Linked DNA regions of Homo sapiens: region 2 is linked to region 1. Evidence: fine-mapped expression QTL. Tissue or cell type: whole blood. Region 1 holds a variant in brackets; the other region holds the start of a gene. All regions are shown on one strand. Distances are from middle to middle.

Region 1 (2,608 bases):
CATGACAAATGGAAGGGCAAGATTGCTAAGCCCTGAGCAGCTGAGCAGTGCTGTGATGCCCAGAGACAAACTCTGACCCTGTGTTTCTGCACTTGCCCTTGGGGATGCAGGGCTAGGGCATGTCCTAGGCTGGCCAGGTTCTGTAAGCTTTTGGTTTGGACACGTTTGAAATTAGGTTAAAGTCAGCATCTGGCTATAGTGGGCTCCAGAGAGAAAAGAACACAGAGGAGCGTGTGTGGGAGGTGTAGGGAGGAGGAGGAGGCACATCCCAGCGGTGGGTCCTGGCAGGAGACCTCAGGCTGGCCCTCTGGAGAAAAGCCCCAAGTCTATAATAACAACCAGCTGTCAGAGTCACCTCCTTTGATTGATTGATTGAAATGGGGTCTCACTATGTTGGCCAAGCTGGTCTCAAATTGCCTCAAGTGATCCTCCCACCTCAGCCTTCCAAAGTGCTTGGGGTTGTGGCCGGGTACGTAGCTCATGCCTATAATCCCAGAACTTTGGGAGGCTGAGGCAGGAGGATCACTTGAGGGCAGGAGGATCACTTGAGGTCAGGAGCTTGAGACCAGCCTGGACAACATGGTGAAGTCTCTACTAAAAATAAAAAAATTAGCTGGGCATGGTGGCACACACCTATAATCCCAGCTACTTGGGAGGCTGAGGCAGGAGAATCACTTGAACCCGGGAGGCAGAGGTTACAGTGAGCTGAGATCATGCCACTCCACCCCAGCCTGGGTGACAGAGTGAGACTCCTTCTCAAAAAAAAAAAAAAAAAAAAAAAAAAAGTGCTGGAGTTACAGGCATAAGCCACCATGCCTGGCCTTCCACCTCCTTCTTATATAGGACTGCTTAGAAAGAAAGAAAAAAACTCAAACATTTACAGATATGCAGATATGCCCAATCTTTTAGGCTCTAAGTGAGGAGTAGGCGGTGGGATGTTAGGGGTGGACTGGTAGAACAAAATAGGCCTTGTTCCTGCAGGTGCCTTGGAAAAATCGAAGATGAAAGACCTTACATTATTTCCTGGGGGTGTGAGCCAGCCTTGTTCTTGTTTACCATTGTCAACTCTGTGCACAAAGCTATTTATGAGTCGGTTGTAACGGATACAGGAAATATGAGCTTCTGAGCCTCTCCCTGTTGCTTTGTTTCCTGCTGCCTAGGTGGGAAGTCACGACCTGACCCTTGTTAACCTTCACCTGGCAGCCCTGACCCTCCTGGG[G/A]AGCGAGAATCCCAGCAAGAATCACAGTGATGGCCACCGGTTGGCGAGCTTTGCACAGACCCTACAGGAAACCCTGAAAGGTAGGACATTGTCTTTTGCTGTGACTCGGCCACTGTTTTGCAGAGCAGCAGGGCTGCCTCTTCTGAGCCATCTCTGACCACTTGGGCTGGCTGTTTGTCAGCAATGTGAGTCGCGGGTACAGGGGACAGTCAAACCTCTGGCATCTCATGGAGCCCAGCTGACCCTGCACGGCCACATCTGTGCCTCTGTGGACCTAGCATATGCGTTCCAAGCTGTCAGCTCTGTGGCTTTTTAGCCTCATTTAGATAGAAAGGATTAGGGGGGAAGAATATAAGTGATGATGCCCTTCCCCGAAGACAGCTCATCCTGGGACCAGCTGCCTCGGGCATCACTCCGGTGGTGCCGCCTGCAGATTTGCATGTGCTCTTCCTGTGAAAGAGAGACGGGGGTGACAAGGGGAAGTGGTAAATTGCTGATGATTGGTGAATTGAGTTTTTCTCTCTGGCGGGATACAGAGCATGTTGAAGAAGCCCTGAACCTGTCAGAAATGCTGGATTTTAATCTTGTAGGACCTCAGGCAAGCCACCAAACCACTTCAGGCCCCCATCTGATGGGGGACAGTACTCATCTCATAGCAGTACCCAGAGGGCTAAGTAACAGTGTCTGCAGCAATACCAAGCACATAGTAGGGACTTCATGTACACGAGTTGACTCTAAAACATGAGAAGAATTAAGAGAACACTGAAAAGAGCAGAATTCTAGCTAGGCACGGTAGCTCATGCCTGTAATCTCAGCACTTTGGGAGGCCAAGGCGGGAGGATCACTTGAGCCCAGGAGTTCAAGAGCAGCTTGGGCAACATAGTGAGACCCTGTCTCTACAAAGAACGAAAAAAATTAGCCGGGCATGGTGGTACACACCAGTAGTCCCAGATATTCAGGAGGTTGAGGAGGGAGAATCACTTGAGCCCAGGAAGTCGAGGCTGCAGTGAGCTTTGATCGCACCACTGTACTCCAGTCTGGGCAACACAGCAAGACCCCATCTCTTAAAAAAAAAAAAAAAAGGAGCTGAACTCCAGGACAAAGGGGGGCTATGCCCCAACTAATATAGATGGTTTTCTGCACTTGGTTTACCAAAAGAAAAGGTTGACAAGGCTGTGAAGACTGTGATCTTATCCATCTGGCTTGATTTTTCAGAACACTGACCTTGTCTAGGTGAGTTTGTAGTTGGAGGCTTGGAATTCTCTTCTATCTTTTGAGTCTGGACCAATATTCTCTAGCTTTCTAAGACTTCCTCGTTAAACTGGCCCCTCAAATTGGGAGATTCATGAAGATTTTACTACAAAAATATTTCAGTCAAACTGTAGGCTC
Region 2 (2,609 bases), 130 kb before region 1:
ATGACCCCATCATCACTTGGGTCGGATGCAACCAGACTTGAGGTAAGATTCCTTACCTTAACTTTTCAACAAGGAACCAAAAATTTCCCCCCGACCTTTTTTTTTTTTTTTTTGGTCTAAGCTAGTTTGACTTGGTTTTCTGACCAATATACATAGCAGGGGAATGTGCCTCAGAAAGGCAGTAGCATTTTCCAAACTTGGGCTGCCGCTAATTTTACAACCAAAGTACCTTCCGCCTGTGAGAGGTACTATTTTTGCTGACCCAGTCCTTGGAATTGAAACCAGATGCACTGGTCACATTGGTTGGGGATGAAACTTCAGAGAACACTAAACGTCCAGGGTCAAAGTATTCAACGATATCACCGCATGATTTGCTTAATCGAATACTCTAGCTCTAGGTATCCACTATAATGCAGAGGGCTCTTTAATCTTTAACCAAATTGTCATTTAGCAGTGTGATGCAAAAACTCTTCTGGGTTTTGGGAAGCAGCCCCCATTTCCCTCCTTCGTAATGATTAGACTTAATATTACAAAAACTTATCCTTGTTTACTCACAGCGCTAAATGTGCAAAGGAGCAAACCTGTATTTGACCTATGCGAACACACAGGAGGGTGGTGCGTGCCCTCTGCTAGGAGCACAATGCGTCGCTGGCGTTATTAGAGGACATCTCTCTGAGCGGAGCAAAGGTAATACACTGGTGGAAGAAAAGAAAAGGCCGAAAGTGGGGACAGAAATTAAGACGATCCCATTCAGTCTCCTCTGGAACGTTCTGCAAAATTCCGTGAGACCCTGGACCTACAGCGATGCACTCTCAGGGACTGCCCCGGCCTTCATCCCCACACCTCAAAGACAGACGAAAAGCAGCTGAGCAGATCTCGCCTCGGGCAATCCTAAACAGCCTCTACCAGGCACAACCAGTCCTAGGCCCCGGGCGGCAACCATGGTCCGGGGGCAGCTGACTTAGGACAGCCTCCCTGTGACCCGCCCTCGCCGGCACGGCGCCGGCTCCGCCCCTTAAGCCCCCTAAGTCCCGCCTCTGCGCTCCCGGGGCCTACCCCCGCGCTCATGGCCCCGCCCCCGCTTTTCCTACCCCATCGCGCCCTGGCCCCGCTCCCACACTCTATGACCCCGCCTCTCGCACTCCAGGCCCGCCCCACGCGCTCCAGGGTTCTGCTCTCCACCCATTTGTGCCAGGCCACGCCCCCACACCCATGGCTCCTCCTCTCGCACGCCAGGGCCTCCCCTCGCGCTCTCTGGTTCGTTCTCCACCCTCTTGAGCCTTGATGCCGCCCCCTCTTCCATGGCCCCGCCTCTCCCACTCCAGGCCCGCCCTTGCGCTCTCGGGTTCCTCTCTCCACCCACTGGTGCCAGGCCTCGCCCCGCGCCAGGGCCCCTCCCCCACGTGCCCTCGGGAGTCCCGGGGAGGAGTTGCCGCGCGGAGGAGGCGTGGCCGCGGTGCCTGCGGAGGCGCGAGCGGCGCGGCGCGGCGCGGCCGGGACTTTGGCTTTGACACCGACTGCGAGCGGGAGCCGTGCGGCTGGTGCTGGGTCTGGACTGGCTCTGGCGGATCCCCGCCCGAGTTGGGCGCAGGACTTTTTGCCGGGGTAAACGCAACTGCGGCGGCGCCGCCGCAAGCCCCGGTGCAGCCTCGGCGGCGGGTTTCGCCGCCGCTGCCGCCGCCTCCGAGCAGCCCTGCGGCTTCTATTCACTCTGGGAGAGCGATGCTAAGTTTCTCCCATAGAAAGAGCCGGGACACGCAGACCGAAGCGGCGTAGTCGGCTTCCAGGGCCTGACCAGTGACCCACACCCGCGCGGACGCCTAGGCTGGAGGCAGGGGGCCCGTGCTGTCCCGGGCTGGGCTCAGGCTTCCGAGCCGCAGGTGGAAGAGGAACCGGCGCCCCGCAGAGCGGCCGAGAGGTGGGGCGCGGGGACCCGCGGCAGGTCGGGTGGGGGGTCGATAAGCCCCTTCTCAGTGCCCGCTCCGGGGAGCACGGACTTCCCAGGTTGCAGGTAGCGCTGTGTCAGATGCGGAGCGTGGGGGAGGTGGAGTGGCCACCCCGTCTGCGCGAGCCCAAGTGTGGGTGACCCAAGTGTCAGAGTTGAGAGAGGCCTGGAGGAGAGGCATGAGGCTGATGGGGATAGGTCTCTTCCCAAGAGAAGCGGCTCGTAGCCTTTTTGGACTCCAGTGTGATAAAACCCGGACGTCCCTAGAGGAGAATCCACATGGGCCTAGCCTCATTGTGCCTGCGTTTTTAGGGGTTCACGGGCAGCCACCAGTCCCCGACTCCTGGTTACTAACTCTAGCACTAGGTAGGGGGTGCTAATGCAAATTTCTTAATTCAATGGGTTTCTATGTTTATTGATTTATTTTCTAGGCGGCCAAGTGAAAGGTAATTTTGGACACGCCAGGCATGGAAGATTCGGTGTTTGTCTATAGTAACCTCTTCAGTCCCTGAATCCTGCACCTTCCGTTTTTCTGTGCTTGTACGGCCTACTGGGCTTCCTCCCTAGCCAGAGAGCTCTTCTGCAGTGGTGCGGCCTTCCCGGGAGCCTGATCCTGGCGGACCATGGGGAGCACCCTGGGCTGCCACCGCTCCATCCCCAGGGA

What was found. PIP is the estimated chance that this variant, and not a neighbour inherited with it, causes the effect.
Region 2: it holds the start of EEPD1, and the variant in region 1 is fine-mapped to the expression of EEPD1 in whole blood (INTERVAL, PIP above 0.99).

What each region holds. Positions count from the first base shown.
Region 1 is chr7:36,286,479-36,289,086 of GRCh38, forward strand. It overlaps EEPD1 (endonuclease/exonuclease/phosphatase family domain containing 1), which reads left to right. Exons shown (of 8, transcript NM_030636.3): 6 at 1,161-1,299. Among named protein-coding and RNA genes, the nearest start is that of MATCAP2, 79 kb to the right of the region's middle. The variant G/A (reference allele first, on the strand shown) is at 1,220.
Region 2 is chr7:36,151,757-36,154,365 of GRCh38, forward strand. EEPD1 (endonuclease/exonuclease/phosphatase family domain containing 1) reads left to right here and starts at 1,498. Exons shown (of 8, transcript NM_030636.3): 1 at 1,498-1,918; 2 at 2,377-2,609. The coding sequence starts at 2,569. RefSeq lists a silencer at 910-1,629.